Homo sapiens: one gene and its partners. The protein of the gene in region 1 purifies or fractionates together with the protein of each later gene. This does not show direct contact. Each region holds a gene or a part of one and is shown in the gene's direction. Other genes may lie near its edges. The genes, in order: GPR141, TTYH3, TSPAN3 and CCNY.

Region 1 (6,857 bases):
TACTTTTACCACCTTCAAGAAGATGCAAAGATTTTAGAACACTTGAATTCAATTTATATCTCTCCATGCTTTATCCCATTATTGTCAGGAATTTTGACTCTACCTATATTTCAAATCCTGTTAGGTGATTACTATTGTTATTGTAAATCTTTGATATGTACATAGGTTTACCCACACATTTGCTCTTTCTATTGCTCTTGGTTTCTTTGTGCAGTTCTGGCTCTCACCTGGGATTGCCTTTGCACTTTTGGAATCACTCCTTTTAGCATTTCCCTTAGTTCATGTTGGTGGGTTACAAATCATCATAGTTTCAGTTTGTCTGAAAATATTATTGTGTCATCAAGATGATGGATATTTTTATTGCATAAAGAACTCTAAATTAGCAGTTATTTTCTTTTACAATTTTGAAGATGTTGTTCCATTTCCTTTGGGTTCCATTGCTGTTGTTGAAAAGGCTGTCTTCAATCTTATTGTTGCACACTTAAAAGTTTTTGCCTCCGAACAGATTTTAAGTTTTGTTTTTGTTTTTTCTTTAGAGATGGAGGTCTCACTATGTTGCTTAGGCTGGTCTCAAACTCCTGGCTGAAAGCAATCCTATCATCTCAGCTTCTCGTGTAACATAATTTTAAAATTTCTTTCTTCATTTTTTTATTTCATATATTGGACCTTGGTAGAGTTTTTGTTGTTGTTTCTATTCTCTTTGGGATTCATAGTGCTTCTTGAGTCTATGTCTTTTTTTATTATGATTTTTTAAAAAATGTATTGCCCTTTAAAATATCGTTTCTTCCAAATTCTTCCTCTTGTTTCTTTCCAGAGCAACATTATAGGCATGTTAAAACTTTGCCCTATGTCTTTCATGACTTTTGTGTGATTTTATATAATTTTTATCTTTTTTTTGTTGCCATTATTCAATCTGGTATTTCTTTTTTTTCTTTTTCTTTTTTTTTTGAGACTGAGTTTTGCGCTTGTCACCCAGGCTGGAGTGCAATGGTGTGATCTTAGCTCATTGCAACCTCTACCTCCTGGGATCAAGCGATTCTCCTGCCTTGGCCTCCCTGGTAGCTGGGATTACAGGCACCCACCACTATGTCCAGCTAATTTTTGTATTTTTAGTAAAGACAGGGTTTCACCATGTTGGCCAGGCTGGTCTTGAACTCCTGACCTCAGGTGATCCACCTGCCTTGGCCTCCCAAAGTGCTGGGATTACAGGTGTGAGCCACCATGCCCAGCCCAATCTGCTACTTTCTACTGACCTATATTTCAATTCCATCATCCTCTGTGTCTAATCTTCTATTAGTCTTCATCAGTTAAGTAACTTTAGTTGTTTTATTTTTCAGTTTCAGAATTTCTATTTTATTAAAAAAATTCTCTAGTGTAAATTTTCTATATTTTGTGTACTCTCTTCAAACATTGATTACAGCTATTTTAAAACCAATCAATTCTGAATGCCCTTGTGCATTTGTTTCTATTTTCTGTTTATTTTCATGGTCTGTTTTTCTAGACTTATCTTCAGACATGGCTTTTAATAGTTATTGAAATTTGGACATTGTGTTTAAAAAGTTTGAGAGTCAATTCATTGATCTGGTTAGTGTTATCGTCCTCCAGAGAGTATTTACTTTTGCTTGATGTGTGTGAGGAGGTCGTTATGACGATGGCAAATCTCCTATCTATTCAGTGATTGTCTACCTAATTCAGCAATTTAGGTGATTTGAAATTGGGCTCCCACTTTGTGATGGTACAATATTTTTAGCACATGCTGTCTCCTAGGGTGTAGCCCTTCAGGGGTCCTAACTGAAAATTTGAGGTAATTATAAGGGCACCACCTCCTTGGTGGTCTCTGTTTGCTTCTTAAACTAGATTTCCTTAACTTCTGAGCATCTTAGCCACTGTATTTCACCTGTTTCTTCACCTCTCAGTGTCCAGTTTCAAATCAGCAGTGCCTTGAGTAAAAAGTACTCAGGAGTTGAAAATCAGATTCACTGATTTGTACTTCCTGTCTTCTGGGGATTTTATTTCTTCAAGGTGTCATTGCCTGGGCAGCTTTCTGAAGCCTTCAAACTTATAGGTTTTGCATTCTGTTCATTTTTGTAAGCTGCTCTCAGCAGGAGGGTTTGTCAGCAACAATCTTCTCTACAACTAATAAAGCTTGAAATATCTCTAGCATGAGTTATTTTGAAGCAGATAGCATTTTAACTCATATGGCAGAAAGAACGCACATCTGCTGAAATTGAAGAGTTTCCTGATGCAGAGGCCTTCTCTTCAAACTAAGAAACAAAGTTGGAAGCACTTAGAACATTATGTTTGGAGTAAGAAATGTGAATACTGATGAAAACAGAACTGCAAAAATTTCGCCTAAAATAATGAGTGTTTTAGCACTGTAAAGAATACCAGGAATCACCCCAAATTACCAAAGTTATCATTCTACTTAGGGACCTTAAAATAGAAAGAACCCAGGGCCAGTATCATTTTGATGCCTTTTAAAATTTCTTTTTGAAATAGTGAAATGTCACAATGGATTTTAAAAATAGGGGAATGTTGAAAATGTTGATATTTAATAAATTAGTACTTTTTAATTGACCAATTTCTATATAATATTAACATGCTGTCTACATCAGGAGTTCTCAACCCCTGGGCCACAGACCAGCAGTGGTTCGTGGCCTGTTAGGAACTGGGCTGTACAGAAGGAGCGGAGCAGTGCACGAGTGGGCCAGCAAAGTTTCGTCTATATTTACAGCTGCTCCCCATCACTTGCATTACTGCCTGAGCTCCACCTCCTGTTAGATCAGCAGCGGCATTAGATTCTCATGGGAGCATGAACCTTATTGTTGAATTGTCCATGCTAGGGATCTAGGTTGCAGTGTTCCTTATGAGAATCTAATGTCTGATGATCTATCATTGTCTTCCATCACCCCCAAATGGGACCATCTAGTTGCAGAAAAACAACCTCAGGGCTTCCACTGATTCTACATTATGATGAGTTGTATAATTATTTCATTATATATTATCATGTAATAACAATTGAAATAAAGTGCGCAATAAATGTAATGTGCTTGAATCATCCAGAAAACATCCCCACCCCTGTCTGTGGAAAAATTGTCTTCCATGAAACCTTTCCCTGGTGCCAAAAAAGGTTGGGGACCACCGATTTACATAATTAGAAAGTTTATAAAATCCTAATTTATAGAGTGGTCATCAAATGGTAGGAAAGTTCAAGCAGTTTGAGGAACTGATGTTTTTTTTTCTCAATACTTGCAGTGCATCTCTATGACTGTATGGGCAGCTTCTTCTGGAGATAATGTTGACAGTCTAAAAAGTTAAGCTGTGACGATTTACTCCCCTCCCCTGCCCCTATAGCACACTCTGATTTTAAATATTTTCTCTCTTAATTCTAATTAAATGACATAATTATAGTGCCATATCCCAGTCAATGCCATTTATCAGTGACAGCTAATTAACACAATTATAAAAGTGGGAGCCCTAAGTTACCAGTGAGGTATAGAGCAACTCTGGAAATTTTCTCCTTACTGAAAGGAAATATTACACATATTCCTTCACCAGAAGAACAATACACAGTTTACCTTCCCTTTTTGTTTTTGATAATACCACTTTGTTCCCCATTCTCTACAAAATTTAGTTTGAAGAACATTTTAAAAACTTGATTCATCGTAGTCATCAATCCTTCATAAATATTTCTTGACAATTGGCCTCTCTGTAGTTTGCAACCTGGACTACTCATGTTTAAGAGCTTGGTTTTTCAAGACTATTGTGTTTCAAATGGTTTTGAGGTTTTATGGTCTGTTGACATTCTGAGGAACTTAGAACACATTCACTTCCTTTTGCTTGGTGAGCTGTCCAGAGCCTTTGCAAATGCATGCAGAGCATGGAAATGACCCAGCTGCCCTGCTGTTGAAACAGAATCCTATTTGGAAGGCAGACATGTGGCCCATCTCTGTAGCCATCACTGAGAAATCTGGATTTTCAAGGTAAGTGCAGATGACTTAGGTTTGGGGAGACATGAATGAAAGTGCTATAGAAATAAAGCACACTTAATTTGTTGGCATAGTCCTAATTCAGAATCTTCAAATGGTTCTGCTCTAAAAAGCAAGCTTATTCTCTGACCACAACTCCTCCTTTATAGAAAGAATTGTTCTATTCTTACTGCTTAGGATATGCTGCTCTGAAAGTAAAACCTAATATTTATGGGTAAATGTGAACAAAAATGATTTCAGAATCTCTCTGTCAAAAAACCAGCTAAACATATCATAGAATTTTTTAGAGCAGTTGGCACTATTGAATTTGTGTATAATTATTCAAATGCTTATCTTTTAAGTGATGTCTTAATTTCCTTTTGTTATGAAAATCCTTTAACTCTATTACTGCATTATTTTCAGATAGAGTTTGAAACTATTCAGGCAGCCCTAGTCAATAGAAGGAAACAATCTGTAAGCAATCAAGTACTTAGAAATTTCTAAAAGAAGTATATTCAAAATAACATGTGAAATAATGGTAATTATAATTCTTTCCATCCCACTTTTAAAGTACTACTTAACAGGAAGGATCTGAAAATAACTTCTTAAATAAGATAAATAAAAAGAACAACATCTGTTCAAATAATTTTACTTTAAGTAAAATACTTTCTATACCAGTATTTTCTACTTCCAAGAAGTAATATTTTTCAAATATGTGGAATGAAATATAATGCAAAGTTTTTAAACAATAAGTCAGTAATGCCTAACCTGAATATAGGCATTTAATTTTGTTTCTTTTACAAATTTGTTATATGACTTTTGATAGGTCACTTAATTCTCTGGACTTCAGCGTTCTACATAACTGCACAATTACTTATCTGAGAAATTACTTATTAAGTACTCCAGAATTACATGTCTTTGTTTTCTGTTTTATTGGGTTTAAATCAGTTAATTAGGATTTTAATCAGTCAATAGAAGTAATGGGAAGACCAATGGATGAGGAATCAGGTGGTGTGAATTCTAGTCCTCTGTTTTCTAGTAATTGGCTGCATAATTTGGGGGAATATTGTCTAAGGATTCCAGACCAGGGGTTGGCAAACTTTTTCTACAAAAGCCTTGATAGTAAATATTTTAGGCTTTGCAAGCCAAGAGGTAGAACTGAGGCTAATATATTGGTACTTACATAACCATTTAAAACTATAAAAACCATTCGTAGCTCACAGGCTGTATAAAAACAAGAAGTGAGCCAGCTTTGGCTTAGGTGACACAATTTTCCAACTATTCTTCTAGCAATGATTTTCAACAATTATAAAATGGAAGTTGTAGACTGGATAAGAGATGCTCAGCTAAGGGAGTTCCTGGATGGTCTTTAGATTGATACACCAATCCTCTGAAATTGCATGCAAAAATGTAAGTGTGTGTTTTTCTTTTCTTCCTTTTGTGCGTGTGTGTGTTTCTCTCCCTCCCTCCTTCCTTCCTGCCTGCCTGCCTGCCTGCCTGCCTGCCTTCCTGCCTTCTTCCCTCCCTCCCTCCCTCCATCTCTCTCTCTCTTTCTCTCTTTCTTTCTTCAGGGCCTTTCTCTCTGTTGCCCAGGCTGGAGTTTAGCGACTCAATCATGGCTCACTGACTGCAGCATCGACCTCCGGGGCTCAAGTGATCCTTTCATCTCAGCCTCCTCAGTAGCTGAGACTACAGGTACTTGCCACCACACCTGGCTAATTAATTAATTTTTTTTTTTAAATAGAGACAGGGTCTTGCTCATGTTGCCCAGGTTAGTCTCAAACTCCTGGGCACAAGTGATCCTCCTGCCTTGGCTTTTCAGAGTACTGGGATAACAAACATGAGCCACTGTGCCTGGCAGCACTTTTTTTTTTTTTTTTTTTTTTTTAAATAAGAAAAACACGGATTGATTTTCAAAGTGGTCCAAAATCCAATTGTAGTTAAGGACCACAGGTCTAGCTAATTTCTAAAAGTGCTTTCCAAATTTAAAATCAATGAGCCTGTGAAATGTTTACTGGTGTCTACTATGGGTAAGCCATTGTGCTAGCACTATAAGAGACGTAGCATGTTGTGACTAAAATAATGTGTTAAATATATTGTTAAATAATATGTTAAAAAATATATTTTTGGGACAGGGCCTCGCTCTGTCTCCAAGGCAGGAGTGCAGTGGCACAATCACAGCTCACTGAAGCCTTCACCTCCTGGAATCAAGTGGTCCTCTCACTTCAGCCTTCCGAATAGCTGGGAGTGCAGGTGTGAGCCACCCTGCCTGCCTTTTTTTTTTTTTTTTTTCTTTAGAGAGGGGGTCTCACTATGTTGCCAAGGCTGGTCTCAAATCCCTGGGCTCAAGCAGTCTTCCTGACTCAGACTCAGACTAAAAATATTTTAAAGAAGTTAGAATATGTGCAAGTCTGTGCTGTCTTTCAAAGTAATAACATTGAAAACAATTTTCAATTGATCAAAGATTTCTGAGACATTGCTTTGCAAAGTGTTTTCAAAGCTAGTTCATACGTTATACCAAAGTATTTTCCAAATTATGTTATTGTCCCATCTTATTTTGAATGACAATGTTATTATTCGTGACAGTCATAATCAAACTTAATCTAAGCATAGTCTGTTTCCTAAAAACATAATTTCCTTAAGGGCAGGAACTATGCCTTTGCTACCTTTATATTTTAGAACAGGGTTTGACCCATAATAAGTACCCAGCATCTTTGGAATGGTTATATGAGTGAATAAGTGAATGAAATGATGAAGGTATTATCATGGAGATTACGTACCATAGATAGTGAAGGCTTGGAACTCCAGATGGTCTAAAAGCAGTAGTTGCTAAGTCCAAAGATGGCTTCTCTTTTCAAAATTGGATGTAACTGTGATTTCAAAATAATT
Region 2 (7,025 bases), about 35 Mb from region 1:
GGGCCTGCACTGGGGTGTGTTTTGGGGATCTGAACTGGGATATGGGGGACTCGTGGTGGGGGCACCTGCAGTGGGGTATGCACAGGAGGCCTGTGTATCTGGATCAAAGGGAGCCAGATGTGGGTGAGGTGAGGCCTCAGATGAGGGAGAGGCCAGTGCCGTAGCAAGAGCTCTGAGTCCCCAGTTGCTGAGCGAGGGTTCAGCACAGGAGGGCTTGATCTAGCTGACGTTATCAGGCCCCTTGGGCTGCTACGTGGGCGGCGGGATGCGGGGACCCACGTGAAAGTGGACACTGTTGCCTGTTCAGGAGAGGGACCTGGGGGACAGGAGGGGCGGGGCCCCAAGAGCCACGTGGCCCTCCAGTCCTGCTTCCAGCTCAGATCTCTGAGCCCCACCCCACCTAGGAGAGGGATCCATCTGGGCCCTGGGCTGTGGGCAGCTCTGGCTGAGGCCAGGCCACAGGAAGAGCCCCAGCCCATGTGTGGGCTGACCCCTGATGTGCACTGGGACCTGCCTTCTGGCCTGCAGCCCAGCAGGTGGCACGGCCCCCACCCTGGCCTGGGGGCTGCTGACTGGCTGTCTCTGCCCCAGGGTCTGCCTGCTGGGAGTCCTGGCCCTGGTCATCAGCTGGGGCGCGCTGGGCTTGGAGCTGGCTGTGTCCGTGGTGAGTGGCAGAGGGGGTGAGGTCCCCGGCTGCTGGACCTGGGCACTGGGGGAGGGACGAGGGGAAGCCACACTCCTCTCCCCTCCCATCTTCCCGGGCACTGGGTCCCGAGAGCGGTGGGGACCCACCATGGGCACAGTCCACCTGTAACCCCAGATTCACAGTCCACCCTCCTGAGTTGAAAGCAGACTCCAGGGGACGGGTTCTACCCCCGAGAGCTTCCCTTTAGGCCCAGCTTGGTCAACCCCTCTTGCTTGCCCACGCCCACCTCAGGGCTCCAGCGACTTCTGTGTGGACCCTGACGCCTACGTGACCAAAATGGTGGAGGAGTACTCGGTGCTGAGTGGGGGTGAGTCTGTGTCCACGGCCGTGTCCCAGCGGGTTCCCCAGGGTTGGGCTGAGCCAAAAGAGTGGGGTAGCTGAGGCCGAGACACCCCTGCCCTGTGGGTCCATGGTCTCAGGGAGACAGGTCCCAGGCCAAGATGCTAGTGAGCAAACAGGACCACCTTTCCCAAGTGGGAGGCTCTGCAAAGAATGACAGGAACTATGTGGGGTGGCGGGTGCCCGCGTGGCAGGGGGAGCGGCAGGTGACCCAGGGCTGCTTCGAGTAGATGCCCAGGGGAGGCCAAATGGGTGGCATTAAAGTACAGCCAGAGGTCTGGGTGCAGTGGCTCACACCTGTAATCCTAGCACTTTGGGAGGCCGAGGCGGGTGGATCACCTGAGGTCAGGAGTTCAAGAGCAGTCTGGCCAACATAGCAAAACCCTGTCTCTACTAAAAATACACAAATGAGCTGGGTGTGGTCGTGGGTGCCTGTAATCCCAGCTACTCCGGAGACTGAGGCACGAGAATTGCCTGAACCCAGGAGGTGGAGGTTGCAATGAGCCGAGATCGCACCACTGCATTCCAGCCTGGGCAACAAGAGTGAAACTCCATCTCAAAAAAAAAAAGTAGAGCCAGAAGGACGCTGCATCTCTTCTAAGAGCCCCGAGGCAGGAGGCAGACCCGAGGGGAGAATGGAGGGTGGGAGGCCAGTGGGGCTGAGTCTCTGTGGCAAGCTTCGCTTTATTCCAGGGGGAGGCCATTGGAGGGAGGGAGGCAGGGGAGAGATTTGACCCATGATTGAAGGTCCCTTTCAAAGCTTCCTCAGGCCTCAAGGGTTACAAGAGTGGGTGAGGAGGATACCTCAAGCAGGAGACAGCAGGGGCTTGAATAAATGGAGCAAAAGGTGGACAGGGATGGGCTTTGAGGGCGGAGCTGGCAGGACTTCCCGGTCAGTTGGATGTAGGGAGCGAGAGGGACGGAGCAGGAGTTGGCGTCCCTGGTTTCAGCAGCTCTGTGCTGCGGGACCATAAGCTGTACTGTGGGTGGGGGAGCAGGTCTGGAGGTGGGGGGCAGGGAGCTGGGGCATCGGGAGTTTCGGCCCCCTCGGGAGGTTTGCGATGTGTGTCGGACGGCACAGAGGCAGGTGGACGTGGGAATCTGGAGATCGGGGTGCCGTCAGTGTGTTAAGCTTCTCAGGCCCCCCTTGTGGAATTATTGTGTGTTCCCCAATAGGAAATAGAAGGCCTGTCCCTGTGGGGGTGAGGGTTACTGAATGACCTTGAAGGTGACCATCCTGCCACCCTTTGTCCCTGGAGGCCACAGGATTGGCTTGTGGGCTGGTTTTTTACCTGCCTTTGTTGAAGGAACCACTTCCACCAAAGCCTGAAGAGCCTCCTGGAGGAAAAGTCATCTGCCGCCCACTGACCTTGTCCTCGGGGGCGAGGGTGGAGGGGTGGGCCCGCTCTGCTAGGGGCGGGGAGGGCTGGTGACCGCTCAGTGCTACCCACCACTGTCCTTGGCCCCGGTGCTATCATCCTGGTCCCTCCAGGTCCCTACTGTAGCCGGCGGCCTTTGGGGGGATCTCATCAAGTATGAGCAGCGCCCCCTACACGTGTACATGTACACACGTAAGTGTGAGCTCCAGCCTGCGGGCCAGACAGCCCCTCCCAGAAGGCAGCAAGGCCAGCCACGCTGGCTTCACTGCACAGGCGGCCACAGTGATGCCTGGTGCTCTCCTATGTTGTTAAATACTTTCATCATTTTTTGAACTTTTAAAATGTTTTTTTTTAATGTTCTTTTATAATTGGAAGAACTGAACTTGTAAAGAGTTCGGAAGGTGGAACCCAGGCAAGGGGCAGTGTGTGGGGACTCTGGCTTGATGGGAGCCCAGACCCCACTGCCACACACACAGACATAGGCATGTGTGTAAATGCATGCAGACACACATGCGAAGACATGTACACACAGACATGCACACATATAAACACACAGACACATGCACACCGGCACACGTGCACACGAAACGTGCACAGAGACACATGCACGTGTAAGTAAACATGCAGACACATGCACATGTGTAAACAGGTGCACACAGACACACATGCACACATGTAAACATGCACGCAGATGCCCTGAAGATATGCGTGCAGACACAGGCAGACGTGCACGCAGTCTCACAGGGACAGCTGTTGCAGCTCAGCCTTCCCTGATGTCTCTCCGCAGACATCCTGCAGTACTACCTGGCCTGCTCGCCCCGCGCCGCCAACCCCTTCCAGCAGGTGAGAGCCTGGGAGGCCGGGACTGGGCTTCAGGAGAGTCTGAAGCACATTGCTGTGTGTGGAGGGGCCCAGCAGGCCTGGCGCCTGGCTCCTCAGCCTGCAGGACTGGGGAACTGGGGGAGGGAGCTGGACAAAGGCTGTGTGGATGTCACCAACAGCCCCTGGGGTTACCATGCCGGTGACCTGGTGACCTGGCTGAGAGCCTTTCGGGGGGACCTGCTCAATGCACCCGCATCGCTGGGACTGCTTTTGCTCCTTGGATTGGCCTTGGTGGGGGAAGGAGGAGCCCCAGGGATGCCTCTGTAGGGTAACCGTGTTCAGGCGTCCTGGTGGGGGAGTTTGAAGAGGTCGGCCGCACCAGCTGGTCAAGCCCTGTACACACTGCCTGTCATTGTACCGGTAGCATGTGACCCTTTGAATCCTGAGGGCCGTGTGACTGTGCTTTGCTTGCTGGTGTGGGTGCGTGGTTGGCTGTTACCACCTCAGGGCTCTGTGGTCTCTGGGTGTGTCCCGGGGGAAGCAAGGGCAGGGAGTGCCCTGTTGGCCTGCAGAGCAGAGCCTTGATGGTCTCCCAGGCTGGACGTCTTGCTGGTGTCCCCGCGTTGGAGGGTCCTGGGGAGGGAGAGGCGGGCGGACCCAGCAGCGCCCATGGACTTGGTCTCCTCTCTGGAGCAGAAGCTGTCGGGCAGCCACAAGGCACTGGTGGAGATGCAGGATGTCGTGGCTGAGCTTCTGAGGACCGTCCCCTGGGAGCAGCCGGCCACTAAGGTGAGGGGCTGCGGGGTAGGCACTGGGGCAGGCAGGGCTCCTCTTTTCTCAGCATGAAAGGAATTTGTGGTGCAAACACAGCTCAGGGCAAATTTGGAGAAGGCACCAGGCTGGCCGAGTGGGGACCTGGTGTTGGAGGTGGCATGGGAGGTGTTCCTCTTCCCTCCCCCAGCCCTTTCCGCGTTAGGCCTCATTTTTTCCTCCCCTTCCTCCCTCCTTCATTCCTTTCCCTTGGGAATTTTTGGTAGGTTTTAAAAATCATTTCTTTTGAGATGGGCTCTTGCTATGTTGCCCAGGTGGGTCTCAGGGCTGGGATGACAGACGTGAACCACCACACCCAACGTTTAAAAAATAACTTTATTCTTTGTTTAAAAATAATACAAGCTCTTTATATTTAAAAAAATTGAAGAAAATGGAAAGAGATGAGGGAAGAGAGTAACAGAATCAGATCCATTCTCTGGGTGAGTGCCCTGGGGGCATTGTGGAAATTTGAGAGGATTCTTGTTTTTCCCTGTAGTGTTCTGGGCCCGGGCATTTCTACATTACAATATGTTAAAAAAATAAAATAAAGGCCTGGCGCGGTGGCTCACGCCTGTAATCCCAGCACTTTGGGAGGCCGAGGTGGGTGAATCACTTGAGCCCAGGAATTCAATACCAGCCTGGCCAACATGGTGAAACACCATTTCTACTAAAAATACATAAATTAGCTGGGCGTGGTGGTACACGCCTGTAATCCCAGCTACTTCAGAGGCTGAGGCAGGAGAATCACTTGAACCTGGGAGGCAGAGATTGCGGTGAGCGGAGATCACGCCACTGCACTCCAGCCTGGGCAACAGAGCGAGACTCCATCTCAAAGAATAAAATAAAAATAAAAAATAAATACGTTGCTATACTCTTGATAAAACCCAAATCTCTTTGGAGGTGTTTGGTCCACCCGTGGGGATCCCTGCCCCCACACACACCGCCCCAGGACTGGACATGAAGAGGGAGGAGTGCGTCTGTGGGCACAAGTGTGGGTCTCAGACTCCATTTGGGAGCAGCTGGCCCTTCTCCAAGGAGCTCTTCACAAAGATAAAAGCAAACAAATGTGTATACACACACGGGGCCGGGCACGGCACTCATGCCTGTCATCTCAGCACTCTGGGGGGCTGAGGCAAGGGGATCACTTGAGCCCACGAGTTCAAGACCATCCTGGGCAACATAGCAAGACCCCATTCTACAAAAAAATACAAAAACTAGCTAGGTGTGGCAAAGCATGCCTGCAATCCCAGCTGCACAGGAGGCTGAGGCAGGAGGATTGCTTGAGCCCGGGAGTTCAAAGCTGCAGTGAGCTGTGATGGCACCAGTTCACCCCAGCCTGGGCAACAGAGCAAGACCCTGTCTCTCTCTCTCTTTCTCTCTGTATGTATGTGTATATATATATAACATATATACACACACATAAAAAAAAATTAAAAATAAAAATTATACACACACACACACAATTGCTTTGATTTAAAGTTACTTTTTAGAATTTCTGTTACAGCTAGAGCTCCCTCTTGGCGTTTTTGCACTCGAGTGGGTAGGGAAGTGGATTCGTTTCCTGGGACCCCCATAGCACAGCAGCCCAGATGGGGCAGCCTCCGCAGCAAACGTTTATCATCTCACAGCTCTTGGCAGGGCCGGCTTCTTCCAAGGCCTCCCTTTTGCTTGTAGACGCTGTCTTCTCCCACTGTCTTCACAGGACCATCCCTCTGTGGGTGTCTGTGTCTTGATCTCCTCTTCTTTTTTATTTTTATTTATTTATTTTTTTGAGACAGAGTCTCTCTCTGTTGCCCAGGCTGGAGTGCAGTGGCGCAATCTCGGCTCACCGCAACCTCTGCCTTCTGGGTTCCAGCGATTCTCCTGCTGAGTAGCTGGGATTACAGGCGCCTGCAGCGCACCCAGCTCATTTTCCTCTTCTTATAAGGACACCCGTCCCATGGGGCTAGGACCCACCCATGTGACCTTGGTTTACCTTCAACACCTCTTTAAAGGCTGTGTCTCCAAGTGCAGCCCCTTTCTGAGGTCCTGGGGGTTCAGACCGCAACACAGGAATTCTGGAGGCACCATTGAGCCCGTAACAGTAGGCTCTGTTATCCCGAAATCCATTTCTTTTTTTTTGGTGTTGTTTTTGAGATAGGGTCTTACTCTCTTGCCGAGGCTGGAGTGCAGTGGTGTGATCTCAACTCACGGCAAACTTCGCCTCCCGGCTGAAGCGATTCTTCTGCCTCAGCCTCCTGAGTAGCTGGGACTACAGGCGCGTGCCACCACGCCTGGCTAATTTTTGTATTTTTAGTAGAGACAGGGTTTCACCATGTTGCCCAGGCTGGTCTCCAACTCTTGGCCTCAAGTGATCCACCCACCTTGGCCTCCCAAAGCGCTGGGATTACAGGGGTGAGCCACCGCTCCCGGCCCCAAAATCCATTTCAGGATTGTAGTGGGTCCTTAGAAAACGTGCCGTAAAAGGCAGCAATGGGCCCAGTCACTGCTCCTGTGGAGTCGCTGTCAGCCTGGCAGTGTTTCTGTGCAGCCGTTTCTCCAGGCATGAGACAGAGCTGGTGGTGTCCGTGCACAGGTGCACACGCATGCACACACGTAAGCACCGGTGAGCACACGGACACATTACAGGACTGCGCTCACTCTGCATGGAGAGTTTTGTCAGTCAGTATGAGACTCTTCCCTTGTCTTTAGCTGTTCCTTGAAATAATACTTTCAAAAGCAGAGCAGGTCCGTGTCAGTAGACACGTGGGGGTTCGCTGTTTCTCCCATTACAATAAAGGGAGGTCTGTCTTCACGTAGTGGCGACCACACTGGACAGGCGCTTCTGGGTCCTCATGTCCTTGGTAGACCCCACGGGTCTGAGGAGGGGCCTGGGGTCACCATTTCTCAAGGCCCAGAGTCCTTGTCCTCAGGACCTGCACTGAGACCCCAGGGTGGGGGGTATCTCAGTCGAAGATTATGGGCTGGAG
Region 3 (7,025 bases), on another chromosome or scaffold:
ATATGTAGAGGAAGGGTAAAAGCATAAAATGAAGTATCATACTTTTGGAACTCATATACTTGCAAAATTTTATAACAAGATGGCTTTATTTTTTAGACAGCTTAGTGGAAAAGCACTGGCTCTCCTAAAGTTTTAAAATGTTGTGACTTAATTTAGAGTATAGGCTTATTAAAAGATAAAGAATAATGGTTTTTTAAAAATTATTCTTTCTGTAATTTCAGACCTCAGCCTTTTGCCTAAATTTCCTTTCACTTCTTTGTAAAAAGGATGAATATTTTTAGTACACTGTCCTGGCACAAATCCTCCTTACAGGCTCAGATTTTCTCAGTGGTGACTAAAGCAGTTCAGCTGCTTCCAAGTTCTACATTTCATCTCCTTTTCTGTTGCACCTCCCTCCTCCCCAGCCCCCTCCTTTGCAGCTGCTTTATTGGCAAAGCTCAGATCCTTTGATAGATCTCAATCCCATCATGGCCCTTCAAAAGAAGAATTTAAGCTCACCTTTTATATAGCTTTTCTGATAGCCACAATTTCTGCATTAAAAATCTGAGGGATGACAAAGTCCCTATGCATACTAGTTAGGAATTTCTTAGAACCTCTCTTCCATTTACTATACTGTTTCCCATGTTCTTTTGGGTGTTTTTCATATTGATGGTTGGATATCATTACAACAATTACTTTTGGCTGTTTTTAGGTCTTCAGCTGCTACTGGGATACCTCTTCTATATTTTCAAAGTAACCAGTGTCATTTCATAATTGTTTATTATACAGCTTAAGATATAAGCACCATATACAGATTTCAGTAAAAGCAAAATTTGAAGCTGTTTTCAATTTAGGAAACACATCGTCTATTTATAAGCAATTTGATGTGTATAGTTTCATATCAGCAATCCGTGCAGTTTTCTCTTTGGTGTGTGCAACTAGTAAGTTCCTTTAACTATATGTTGCCAAATAGAGCTTTGTTATGTTCTCATCTTGTTGTGTGACTTGGATGTTGACTGCAGCCTGGGAAAAAAAACTGTTGTAGAGTCTATCAGAAAAGAAGAGGCAGCTTTACAAATGGCATCTCCCCACAGCCCTCCATTGCATTTGTTGTGCATCTGGTTGTCTCTGTTGCTGGTTTTTCTGCTTTCTTGTAGTCTCAGTTTCAGATGAGTGCCTCTTTTAGGGGGGAGAGGCAGTGGCAGCAGAGGAAACATTTCCCTTGGCCCACCTCCAAGCAGCACTAAGTGTGAGTCTCATAGGAACCTCTTTAGATTGAAAACTCATCAATTTATATCTAAAATGCAAGTAGTTCTTCAGTGAACTGTGCTTCAGGTTGATTGTTAAGTACATATGGCCTCCAGTTTTCTCTTATTTTCATTCGAATTTACATAGGCTAAAGCTAGTGAAGTTTCAGTAGGTGTACCGAAAGCTCAGAAATGGAATTCATTTTAACTCAAGCCTTTTAAGAAATAAATACTGCCTTTTAGAGTAAAAAAAACCTACAACATTAAAGGATAGAGAAACGTCTAATAAAAACAAATGACAAAATTTGATTAATTTGCACTTCAGATTGCTTCTAATTTAGCGTGAGGACTGATACTATTTACTTTAGCAAAATGTGTGTGTGTACATGTGTGTGAATATATATCACACAAGTAGTCAATAAAAAGGGGTATTTGGGAAGAGTGTTAAGTAGTTGACATACTTCTGTAATAAATGCACCCAAATTAAAATTAAGCTATGTCTGGCCAGGCGCAATGGCTCACGCCTGTAATCCCAGCACTTTGGGAGGCCGAGGCGGGCGGATCACGAGGTCAGGACATCGAGACCATCCTGGCTAACACGGTGAAACCCCGTCTCCACTAAAAATACAAAAAATTAGCCAGGTGTAGTGGCGGGCGCCTGTAATCCCAGCTACTCGGGAGGCTGAGGCAGGAGAATGGCGTGAACCTGGGAGACGGAGCCTGCAGTGAGCTGAGATTGCGCCACTGCACTCCAGCCTGGGCGACTGAGTGAGACTCCGTCTCAAAAAATAAATAAAATAAAATAAAATTAAGATAAATTAAACTATTTCTCTTCTCCACTCCCCCCCACTTTTGTGCTCACCTTCATTCTCTAGTACCATGCCCCAAAAGCAAATATGTCAGTGAACTCTGAGAACCTTTGAACAGGCAGTTTGCTGTAAGTACAGTGTTTATATTTATGACATATTTACGATATATTAACATATTCCAGATGTAATGGCCATCAGAATTCAGCAAGCTGGATTCAGTTGCCAAATAATTGAATAGTGAACTAAAAGCTATAAGCATTGAACTGAAGAGAAACCAGATACAAACCAAATACAAATACAAACCAACGCAAATACAAACCAAAGCTTATGATAGAGTTGGGAGGGTGATTTCAAGGGAAAGGGGTGAGATGAGGTGTACTCAATAAACTTTAACTGATACCTGCTGTCTGCCAAGTACTGTTCTAGATGATACAAGGGTGAAGGACAGATGGGTACAATTCGTGCTCTCAAGGTGTGTTGAGACAGGTATAGCTATAATTGCAACCGTTTCGATAAATATTCTGTTAGAACCATGCACTGGGAGATGTTTGTGTCCACCAAGGGCAGCTAATCCAGCCTGAAATGGTCAAGAATGGCTTCCAAAAGGAAGAGGTAACATTTAAGCTTCATCTTAATGAGCGACAAGGAGTTCCCAGGCATTTGAAGAGAGCATTCTAGAGAGAACAGCGGAGGCAAAGAAGTGAGAGAATATGTGGTCCATTTGGGTATAACAGTTCTATATTGTTCATAGTTCACAAGGGGTAATGAGATCTGGGGCTGAAAAGGAGGAATAGCTTGGTTCATCGGGGACTCACTTGCCTCATCCTGATTTTAAGTAAGGCTATGGCTTGATCTGGTTTGTATTTTTAATAAATATAACCCTGGTAGTATAAAGAATGTATTAAGATGCAGGGAGAGTCAATAAGTAAGATTTAGGGGGATAAGATAAGGCCCAAATTAAGACAGAAGCACTGCAGTGGGGTTGAAGAGGAGTTGAGGTATTCGAATAATGTTTTGGAAGTAAAGTTGAAGTTTTGTGATTTATGGGTTATAGAGGTGGGGCAAGGAAAGTTAATCCTCAGATGTTTGACCAGAAAAATTAGATGTCTGGTACCTTTTGCTATGATAGGAATGTAAGGGAAGATTAGATGGGCTGGGCAGGAAGGCAGAAAGGGTTTGAGACAGGTTGAGGATGACATGTCTCTGGAACTTGCAGATGGAAATGTGTAGTTCTGAGATGATAGCTCAGGTAGTGAGCTACAATGACTAATGAAGCCATAGCTGCTGTAGCCCACGGAGAGCCCAGAGAATGACTAAAGAATAAGGCCGAAGACAGAATCCTGGAGATCACTAACATCTCAGAGTCCGTGAAGAGAATGAAAAAGTGAGCACCTGGGGAAGTAGGAAGAAAACCAGCAGTGGGGCCTCTTGGAAGCCAGAGGAAGAGAGTTTTAAAACAATGTTTTTAAAAATTGCCTTCATTATTCTAGTTGTCTTCTCACTTTAAAAAGTTCATGTTACATTTTAAAAAATCAAATTACTTTCCCAAATTTACATAAATGGAGTCTTTTTCTTCCTCATCTGACAGTGATCCTAATGGCCTAGTGTAAAAAAATATACTGATGATCCCCAAGCTTACTGAATTTCATAAACTTAAATGATCTGGGTTTTCAGGTTCAGAGAAGTTAATGATATTTCCAGTATCACTGTGGCAGCTGTTTCTAGTTTGAAGATGATTTATATGTTAAATTTTAAAGGATGATGAAATACTTCTTGTGAAAGTTTCAAAGTACTCTACAAATGATAACTCATTGTTATCCAAGTGATAACCAAATGTTTTAACACTTACTCTGACACTGCATTTGCTTGTTTGTATATGAGCCAGTGGCATTGGGCTGTCAGCACAGAGCTGGTACCCAAAGATAGCAAAATTGACAATAGCGGAGAAAGTAAGACTCTGCAGCTGGAGAATGATGCCTGGAGCAGCAGCTGAAATAAGACACACCTATCACTTGTCTTTGTGTGTTCACTTTCCCTTTAGGTCTTTAATACCTTGTTACTCAGAGTGCGCTCCAAGAAGAAGCTGCACCAGCATCACCTGGGAACTTGTTAGAAATGCAGACTCTCAGGCTCCTCCTCAGACCTCCTGAATCAATCTGCTTGTTATTCAGATCCTCAGGCAATTCCTATTCACTTCAAAGTTTGAGAACCACCATTCTAAAGAATTGATAGAGGACTTGCAGTGTTCTTTAATGACTGAGCCCTCTAGCTTTGCCATTTCACTGTCTCTAGGACAGCAAGATTTTTGGAAGTGGGGTGGGTATCATGCTTACTAGTTGGTGTATTTTCTTTTCCTTGAGGTGGGGTAGATAGAGATTAGAAGTGTAGATTCTGGAGTCAGATTGCCTGAGTTCAAATCCAAGCTCTGTCATTTCTACCAAATTTCCCCACTTATTGAGGGCAACTGTAGTGAGCAAAGATCCCCCTACCACCATACTGATCCGTATTGGATGTGGAATTGAGCTACAGTAAGCCTTTAGGGATGTGTAGGTGTGTGTCATCATCATTGTTATTATTTGGTTATGGTTTCTTGGTCCTAGCTGAACCATCAATTCGTGAAAAGTAGGTGAAGTGTGGATAACTTTTTAATTTTATCTAGTATAGAAATGCTCTTAACAAGGAATCATAGAATTTTCAGCTTTACTGAAAAAAGTCTATAACAGTTACGGTAACTCTCATTAAATTATACCATACTAAGCAATAATAGGAAATTTTTACCAGCAGTGCTTAGAGACCAGTACTGACTTTGTTTTCTACAGGGGGCAGCTGGCATTTTATGCTATGTGGGAGCCTATGTCTTCATCACTTATGATGACTATGACCACTTCTTTGAAGATGTGTACACGCTCATCCCTGCTGTAGTGATCATAGCTGTAGGAGCCCTGCTTTTCATCATTGGGCTAATTGGCTGCTGTGCCACAATCCGGGAAAGTCGCTGTGGACTTGCCACGGTAAGATGTGTTGTGAGAACATGCAGGAGTATTTAGTCTATGCTACTCTCCTTGAACATGAGACTCCTTGGCTCTTATAGTTGGAACAGAGTTAACATTTAAACTTCTAGCAATTATCTCTGATAACTTTTTTTAAATCAAGAGTGTATTTAAAGTTATTTTTTCATTTGTATATAATTTTAAACCATGTTTTCTTACAGTTTGTCATCATCCTGCTCTTGGTTTTTGTCACAGAAGTTGTTGTAGTGGTTTTGGGATATGTTTACAGAGCAAAGGTATGTTGTCTACTGTAATTCACATAATGCCTTAAAAGGTGGTTTAAGTGTTTCAAGTAAAATAGAACACATTCATTTTATCAGAGTAAACATTTTCTTTTGCCTTACTTGTTTAATCTGTATTTCAAATATCTAAAGTTAATTGGCAAATATTTACATGTCAAGACTCCTTACCTCATTTAATATAGCAGAGTGTTATATATGTATTGTTCTTGATTATAGGTATTTATAGCTGCAAATGAATAATTAGCTGAGAAGTTTGTTCAGATTTCCTCAGCACACAGATTGCCTATATGAGGGGAGGCATAATTTTCTGATTTCTGCTTTAGAAGAACCAAACTCAGAATTGCGTTTTCCATTGTCTCTTTAAAAAATGCTTTGGTCCTAAACATAGAAAAAGGTGTTGTGAGTTGTGATCCCACCTTCCACCCCTGTCCTGAGGAACAAGGGGTCCTGCCAACTTAGAACACCAAGGCAGCTGGTGCCAGCACTCCTTTCTTGCCCTTCATTCTTTTTAATCATTTCACCGTTCCTTCCTTTCTATTTTGCCTGATTTTGCTGTCTACCTGTAGTACTACTTAAGGCTAAACAGGCTGCTTTAAATTAATTAATATGGGTATAATTTTAGAGGCATGGTAAAGACATAATAGACTCATTCTCATTATAACTTAATGGTTTTGAGTCAAGGGCATAATATGCCAAGTTAATTTTCAGATCATTGATACGTAAGGTACTGTAAAGCTGTGCTAAAAAAAAAATGCAATGGATTATGTCCCTACCTATGATCTGGTTATCAATTTTATGGACTTATGATATTACTGTTGTAATTACCAGATAAGTCCAGTCCTCCGAGGGGTAAGGAGGATCTGGTACAAGCAAACTTTACTAAGTGATACTTGCTTGCCATTTTAGTAATTGGCAGCAATAAGCTATGAAGCTTGTTTCCTGTCTCCTTTTTGCAATACATTGAACAGTAGCTTTTTCATAAAGTGCCATTTCTAAGGACTGATTTTTTTAAACCTGCCGATTACTTTTGCACATTTAGCCAACTCTAAACGTTGAATAAATAAAATGGAAATAATGTTGGCATTTGTCCTAAAAGTATCTTACAGGAGCTTCAGAGTTACTTTGTTTTACCTCCTTTAGGAAAGGAAAATGAGTAACTTATTTGTAAAAGGAAGGCATCCATTTATAATTTAGGACATCTATCCCAAGCCTCAACTTTTCTCCCTTTTGAATACATTGTTAGCCTGCCATTTTGCACACAATCTTCTCTTTGAATGCTTGAATGTATGTGGTATATGTCTGAATTTTTACCTGTCACTTTTCTCCCTCCTGCCTTCATCTATATCTATATGAAGATGAAGGCAGGAAGGGAGAAAACTTTACAGGAAATTCATAGATATCTGGCAACTTGCAAACATTTCATTTAAGTATTTTAGTAGGAGCCTTGACTAATGTTACTTTTACTAGTATTTTTGAGGGACTGAATTCTTTGTTCTGATTCAGGTGGAAAATGAGGTTGATCGCAGCATTCAGAAAGTGTATAAGACCTACAATGGAACCAACCCTGATGCTGCTAGCCGGGCTATTGATTATGTACAGAGACAGGTGAGCTTTCTTGAGGCAGATTTGTTTTTGAGGACCAATCACGATTGGGTCAACATTAAACTAACTGCTATTTCTGTGTAAATTAGCCATGTT
Region 4 (7,598 bases), on another chromosome or scaffold:
GTGAGTTTCTCCAGAATGGAAACTATAATCCACTTTCGTATCCTCAAGGTGCCTGGCTCAGTATACTCTCAAAAATGTTATCCAGAAATGAGTCACCTGACTTGATCAAGGTCAAGTGGCTATCAAAGTAAATACTTCCCCTGTAGCTGGTTACACTGTGGACTGCCTACTACCAAGGACAAAAGGCAGGCCTCATTTGGAGAGGAGGTCGGTGACAGGAGGAGCATCAGTAGCACAACACACAGAATGTCTTGGTTATTTCACAACTGCCTTATAAATGCTCGAGTAACCGTCATGAGAAACTGACTACCAGGTGAAAGGGCAGCCATACTCTGAGGAGACACTACAGATTTTCCTTTCCACAAAAGGTTCAGGTCCTGGGCTAACTTGGCTCAGTGTTTTCTGTGTTCCAGAAGGTGACTCAGGGAGTTGTGCAAATGACTGACTCATATTTCATGGATACGAGTATGGCTGATGTAAGACTGCAGTTATCTCCTCCTGATTCAATTAAGGTAGACTATTCTTGATTGTTTTTATCAGTAGATCTATAAATTATACAAGTTGATACTAATATTGCTTATGTTTTAAATAGTGTGGTTCCACAGAAAATTTTGTTTTTTCTGTGAGAAACAAAGCTACTATTGCTAAAAAAGTGTCAAGAGCACTGACTTAGCTATAGTTCATCTGAGTTTTTTTTGAGACGGAGTCTTGCTCTGTCACCCAGGCTGGAGTGCAGTGGCACGATCTCGGCTCACTGCAACCTCCACCTCCCGGGTTCACACCATTCTCCTGCCTCAGCCTCCCGAGCAGCTGGAGCTATAGGCGCCCACCACCACGCCTGGCTAATTTTTTGTATTTTTAATAGAGACAGGGTTTCACTGTGTTAGCCAGGATGGTCTTGATCTCCTGACCTCGTGATCCACTCACCTCAGCCTCCCAAACTGCTGGGATTACAGGTGTGAACCACCGCGCCCGGCCCACCTGAGTTTTATATTTACCTGGTTACAGTGACCAAATTCTTCAACAGTGATCATGGAGAAAGATGAGACAAAATAATTCCCAAATGATTCTTTCTGCTCAAAGACCAGGGTGGGTATGAGTAGATCCAGGTCAATTTTTTTTTTCTTTTAAGAGACAGGGTCTCACTCTGTCACCTAGGCTGGGGTACAGTGGTACAATCATAGCTCACTGCAGCCTCCTACTCCCAGACTCAAGCCATCTTCCTAATCCTCCTCAAGCTTGAGGACAGGCCTTGTTACAATGCTCAGTGTGTACCTCTCCCCTTCTCCACTCCCCTTGTCCACATTCTGGGCTAGATCCACACTCTATTGAGGAACTGTCTCTGTATTTTGATTCCCGAGTGACACAGTGTTGGAGATCCTGTGGCTAGATACACAGGTTATTTCTGCATATGGCTACTCCTCAACCTTGTTGCCTGTCTTACTCTGGTCTGAGAGCTGAACCCCACAGAAATAACAAGGCTCCCCTCATCCCTTTCTCTGAAAGATTAGTACTAGTCCTAAGTGGTTAGCTCCCAGCTTCCTTTAGGACAGAAAAAAGAGAAGGAGAGAAGTGACACTTGTTTTTTTACTCACAAAGTCTTGGAGATAGGAGGTAGGAGGTTGGGGTGGATGTAGCTTGGACTTTGGAATTAGAACCAGGTTCAAATCCCCAATTAGGACATTTCTCAGTATTTTGATCTTAGATAGGTTTACTTATCAAAGTGTCTATTTATAAAATGGGGTATAACTTAATCAGATTTAGATGTAAGAAATAGTATAGTGCATGGCAGCTAGCAGGCTTTCAACGAACGACATCTCTCATTACTATCATTTTGACATCACATTTATCTGCTCAGAGTTGGTTACTGTTCTGCAATTTTTCCCAAAGTGTCACTGTGTGTCAGGCAGGGAGTATCTGCCTGGAGGAGTTTGAAGTATGCATGTAGGGTGGATGAGTTGTGGGGGTCGGCACCCAGGTAAATCACTAGCGAGGCTTTAGTACCCGTCTTTTCTCTCCAGGATTCTTGACCAAAAGTTACACTCTAAATTAAAGTCCAAACAGGTACATACCTAAGGGGAATATGGTGGAAATGTCAAAGAGGAGATAGGGAAAGAGGGGGAGGGGGGCGGGGCACAAAAATCCTGGCAGACCAGAGGCTGTACCACCCTTTGTTAAGGGTATGTGGCTACACTGATCTCTCATCCTCCAGATGCTCTTCCCAGTTAACACTGCCCAGTGACCTTCTTGGACAGGAAGCATGCAGCCAGCCATGCTGTCACCTTAGTGCCACTGTCTCTTTCTCCTCTTAAGCCCTTCAAACCATAATTTGAATGTAAATGTTATACATTTTATAATGAAATAAAAATAGCTTAATGCATCTGAGTAGATATGCCACACACCTATGGTCCAATGACTGGATGCTGACTTTCATATGTGGCCCAAATTACAAAGCAGCAATCAGAACAGACAACAACAGACAACAAGGGAACTTCTCTCCCACGGGTTCAGCAATCTGACCCAAACTCCATAGCCCCAGACAATCTGAATACACACATGCAAGTGTAAATATGCCCCAGTTTTCCCAGGAAGCAGGAAAATCTACACAGCCTCAATGAAGAGCACTATTTTGGACTGTTGTTGTCTACCCACCCTCTCCAGGGCTTTAATTCTTTAGAACTTCCCTTTTACACTTCTTTTCTCATCTGGTCAGCATTACCACTTTGCAGCCACTTATTTTCCATGGACATCTGCCACTTATCCTAACAAATAGCATTAATACAGTTGAGAGCATGGAGCGTTTAAAATATGGACTAATAAATGTATAAACAGTACTTTGAGAGGGAGGGAAAGCACAGGTTAAAAAATGGCTAGATGTAGAGAATTAAATGAAATGTTTATAAAGCCGTTCACACGATGTCCACACATTGCTGATGCTAGATAAATATCAAGTCCCTTATTCCTTCTCTTACCTTTTAGTAACTGGATTTGTCACGAACAGGTACTGAGGTCTGCATAAATCAAGGCATGATTTCATCTCTGGGCCTCAGTTTCCTCATATATAAAATTAAGACAGTTGTACTATTGTACTAGTTTTTTTTTCAAGAACTAGTTCAAAAACATTCCCAGCTCCCACCCCCACCCCCCCACCCCACAAGACTCTCCTCAAGACTCCTTCAGTAAATATTTGGAAAAAGGGTGGGAAGTTTGTTTCTGCCACCTTATATTCTTCCCAATAAAGGCAAGAAAAGTCAGGGATGGCTGGCATTGTGGGCGTCGGGAGGGAATGCGAACCAACATTTACTCTACTTCTCTCCCAGCCAGGCATGTTCACATACCTTGATCTTAGTCAACTGGCCTAAGTTAACTTGTTCCCAACATGACAAAACCCGATGGCATTCTAAAAGCAAAGCAAAGCAAAGCAAGGGCAGTCGATGAGTTGTGTTAACTTAGTTTTCTATCTCATGTTAACCTCCAAGGAACTCAAAACAACTCCACAGCGAATTCAATATTAAAATAGCTCTGGGACCCCAAGATTTATTTCACAGCTTAAAGCAAGGTCACTATCAAGTCCTCGGCAAAGCTCAAAATACAATAGAAAACTCCCAAATCAAGCCCCAGCTTATTTAAATGCTTAGAAAAAAAAAATAGCCAGGTGCCGTGGCTCATGCCCGTAATCCCATGGGAGGAGTCCAGACGGGAGGATTCCTTGAAGACAGGAGTTCGATACCAGCCCGGGTTACGAAGCGAGATCCCATCTCTACAAAAAGTTAACACACACACACACACACATTCACCACCTTAGCCTGGCTTAGTGGCGGGCGCCCGTGTTACAAAGGGAGATCCCATCTCTACAAAAAGTTAACACACATACACACCCTACCTTAGCCTGGCGTAGTGGCGGGAGCCTGTAGTCCTCGCTACTTTGGAGACACACACACACACACACACCCGTAGTCCTCGCTACTTTGGAGACACACACACACACACACACACACACACCTTAGCCAGGCGTGGTGGCGCGCGCCTGTAGTACCGGCTACTTTGGAGGCTGAGGCGGGAGAATCGCTTCAGCCTAGGAGTTCGAGGCTGCAGTGAGCCGAGATTGCGCCACTGCCCTCCAGCCTGGGCGACAGAGCGAAATCATACCTCTAAAAAAATAAATTAGAAAAATAAAAAGACAAAAAGAGCCAGCCCGGTTTCGGAGAGGCAGGTGCAGCCTCAGCGCCCTGGGCCTGCGTCCCCGACCGGGCCCTGGCTGCGCTCCCGCCCGCTGCGGGCCCCGGGGACGCACCTCGCATCCCGCGCTGGGCCCCGTTCCGTCCAGCCCGGGGGAGTGGAGGAGGCAGAGGCCGGGTGGGGAAGGGCCTCCAGAAACCGAGCTCCCGACGACGTCTCCCGCGACCCCAGTGCCCGAGAGAGGAGCGGCCCCCGGGAGCGATCCCACAACCGCGCGGGGCTGCGCCGCCCCGAACCTCCCCGCGGCCGCCGATCTGCTTCCAGGGCAGAGGGAAGGGGCGGTGACGGGGCGGGGCGGGGGCTGCGGCGAGGGCGGGCGCCGCTGGCGAGGGAGGGCCGCCAGCATCCTCCCTGGCCGCGCCGCACCGCGCCGCGAGGAGTCCGGGGGCTGCGCCCACGCCCGCTGCCCGCCCGCTCGTCGGCTAGTCCCGCCGTCCGGCGCGGACACGCGTGCCCCCGGCTTGAACCGGAACCTCTTGCCGAGGCGGCCGCCGTCGCCGCAGCCGCCGGGGAAGCGGACACCAACTGGGGAAGCGCGGGGGGGAGGCGGCCTGCGCGGCGCCGCCCGCCATGGCCGCGGCGGGGTGAGGTAGGCGCGGCGGCCGCAGTCGCGCGGACCCGAGCGCTCCTCCGCCGCGGATAGGCCGGCCGAGGGGGAGCCGGGGCCGTCGCCCGCTCGTCGCCGCCGCCGCCGCCGCCGCCCATGGCGAGGCCCCGCCGCCGCCGCCGCTGCTGACCCGGCGGCCGGCCGCCGTTCCGCCCCCTCCCGTGGCGGCGAGCGGGCGGGCCTCCCCACACGCCCCCGCCGCCCGCGCCCCGCGTCCACCCGCGCCCCGCTCCCGGGGACTGGGAGAACAGGATAGCAGCAGGAGTCGGGGGGCCGCCGAAGATGGGGAACACTACCTCGTGCTGCGTGTCGTCCAGTCCCAAGCTCCGGAGGAATGCCCACTCCCGGCTGGAGTCCTACCGGCCAGACACGGACCTGAGCCGCGAGGACACGGGCTGCAACCTGCAGCACATCAGCGACCGGGAGAACATAGACGGTGAGTGCGGCCCGCCGAGCCCCCTACCCGCCCCCGCGGCAACAGTCGCACAGCCAACGTCGGGGCGGCCCGGCTGCTCTTGCTTGCCCAGCCGGTCTCGGCGACCCGTGCATAACCGGGGCTTCGCCCGCGCAGCCTAGGCGCCCGGGGCCCCGCAGCCTCTGGGCGTACCCCTCGCTGGTTACCCCCAAGTGAGCGGCCGCGGAAACTTTGCAGGCCCGCGGCATCGAGCACGGCGGGCCTAGGGCGGGTGTGTGCGCGTGGGTCGCGAGGTGACAGGAGCCGGCCCTCGTCCTTAATGGAGCGGCCAGAGCTGGGTGGGGGCGGCCCGGGAGCTCGGGGTTCCCGGCACTACCTGAATGCAGCCCGAAGCCAAGTTGTGCACGCGTTTGTCCTATAAAAGCGAAGTGAGTGGATTCCCATTTTGGAATCCCGGTGTCTCCAACCTCGAGTTGGAGAACCATGTTGAGTCAGTTCCCCGGAACCTTACAAATGGACTCCACTTCCCCCGTTCCCATTCTACCGTTTTTTTTAAAAAATGATTTTTTTGAGTGGCGGTTCCAGGATTAGTCAAATAGCTTCTCCCGAGAATGCTCTTTAAAAGATTGTCAGACACCTTTGGGTTAAGTCTCAGTTTTTGCATGGGCCCGAATTGCAGTCCTATGAATTTCTGATTTATTCAGGTGACTTTTGGTTGGTCTGGAGTTTGCAAAAAGAAAAAAAGCTAAGACTAATTACTGCACGCAGTAATGTTTTATTTATTTTATTGGTTTGGCAACATATTTATTAGCACTGTTGCTCAGTGATAACGACAGAGGGATATTTATGCATCATGCTTAAAATATAGTTTATAGAATTTTCAACTGAAAAGATTTGAAATTGGAAGTATCTTTTTATGACAAGGTGATTTTTTTAACCCAAACATCTTCTCATAGTTAATCTGGTTGAACTAATATGAAGAAATTTTTGTGTGAATGAATGAACACAACTTCATAATTCGTTCCTGTCCACTTTAGGATGGAAGATTCTCTCCACTGTGGAAAGGCCACATTTAAACTTTGCTAAAGGAAAGATTTTTCTCGTTTGTCTTCGTGTAATTTCTTCTAAATGGTAGTTTAATCTTTTTAGGAGAGCATCTTTATTAAATGAGTGCCATGTATAAAGGGAGTAACACAACGTCTGGTTTCTAGTACGCGCTTAGTAAATTATGGTTCCATATGACGTGTCTAGTGTTGTTATTTTAGATTTCCATTATTTTAAACATACGCTTAGATGTCTTTGAACTACAGCCATACTTTCTTCTTAAATTTATGCATTTAAAGGCATCTAGAAGGATGAAGGCCAGATCGGTCTTGATCACTTTCACAGCCTCTAGCACCTGAAAGAAAAGTCTAGCATATAATAAACAGTAAGTATTGTACTTTAAAGGGAGGAATAAATGAATGAGTTTATTACAGAAAGCCATTACCCAGTCCTATACTATGTTGACAGGCGAAAACATTTGGAAATAATGTCTTCTTTATGATGTGCAGTAAATTTCCTTTTTATGTTGTGCAGTATCTAGCGGAGGCTTTGTTTTGAATGATGGATCAAAAAAGAAAAAAAAGAAGATTTACATTTCTTAGAGCCAGGCTGCATACAGTTATTATAGACTATTGTAAGGAAATAAGGTGGAAAAAATAAGTGTAACCAGGTATTTGGCACTAAGGCTCAGTACAATTTTGCCAGAGTACAGTGAAATGATATTGTGTGTTCTTTCATTTCAAAGAAATCTTAAGTTTCAGTCATCAGGAATTTTTGAGAGAATGTTTGGAAGACTCTTTTGCAGATTCAGGATAGTTTGAGAGAGTATAGGGCAGGTTTCCAATCTAGGCTGTGGAGTGCCCTCTCATCCCAGATCCCAGTTCATATGATTATGCTAGTTTAAACCCCGAAATATTAATTCACCTTCTGTCTCTCAAATTCAATAAATAATACTTCTAGCATTGACCCAGCCAGCAGTTCTCAACATTGGTTTCAGTTAAACCAGAAATCTAGTACTGGACATTGCCATTAATATGTTTAAATCTCTCCAAGGTGATTCTGAGATGCAGGTAGGCCTGAGAATTGCTGGCTGGGCAAATCTTGGAAGTGTTACCTGCCGTTCAGGGACATTTTTGGTAGAAATTCATTATTAGAGGCTGAGAGAAGAGAACAGGTTTTAATTAAATAGAGTGTATATATATACACACTATATACATCTATATGTCTGTATTTGCTCATCTATATCTGTATGTATTTGAACTGAGTTATATTGATTGTTAGGTTATTAGTAAA

The links.
Region 2: the proteins of GPR141 (region 1) and TTYH3 purify together in Homo sapiens (affinity purification with mass spectrometry; 2 studies listed by BioGRID and IntAct, with this or other methods). This does not show direct contact.
Region 3: the proteins of GPR141 (region 1) and TSPAN3 purify together in Homo sapiens (affinity purification with mass spectrometry; 2 studies listed by BioGRID and IntAct, with this or other methods). This does not show direct contact.
Region 4: the proteins of GPR141 (region 1) and CCNY purify together in Homo sapiens (affinity purification with mass spectrometry; 2 studies listed by BioGRID and IntAct, with this or other methods). This does not show direct contact.

What each region holds. Positions count from the first base shown.
Region 1 is NC_000007.14:37,679,921-37,686,777, forward strand, and holds the start of GPR141 (probable G-protein coupled receptor 141), read left to right. Parts: upstream 1-3,845; 5' UTR 3,846-3,983; intron 3,984-5,258; exon of another isoform or gene 5,259-5,330; coding exon of another isoform or gene 5,331-5,378; intron 5,379-5,539; coding exon of another isoform or gene 5,540-5,663; intron 5,664-6,857. UniProt on the Homo sapiens protein: Orphan receptor.
Region 2 is NC_000007.14:2,648,976-2,656,000, forward strand, and holds part of TTYH3 (protein tweety homolog 3), read left to right. Parts: intron 1-591; coding exon 592-664; intron 665-937; coding exon 938-1,013; intron 1,014-3,211; coding exon 3,212-3,267; intron 3,268-3,942; coding exon 3,943-4,035; intron 4,036-7,025. UniProt on the Homo sapiens protein: Calcium-independent, swelling-dependent volume-regulated anion channel (VRAC-swell) which plays a pivotal role in the process of regulatory volume decrease (RVD) in the brain through the efflux of anions like chloride and organic osmolytes like glutamate.
Region 3 is NC_000015.10:77,054,085-77,061,109, reverse strand, and holds part of TSPAN3 (tetraspanin-3), read left to right. Parts: intron 1-4,854; coding exon 4,855-5,046; intron 5,047-5,246; coding exon 5,247-5,321; intron 5,322-6,830; coding exon 6,831-6,932; intron 6,933-7,025. UniProt on the Homo sapiens protein: Regulates the proliferation and migration of oligodendrocytes, a process essential for normal myelination and repair.
Region 4 is NC_000010.11:35,331,926-35,339,523, forward strand, and holds the start of CCNY (cyclin-Y), read left to right. Parts: upstream 1-4,583; 5' UTR 4,584-5,128; coding exon 5,129-5,282; intron 5,283-7,598. UniProt on the Homo sapiens protein: Positive regulatory subunit of the cyclin-dependent kinases CDK14/PFTK1 and CDK16.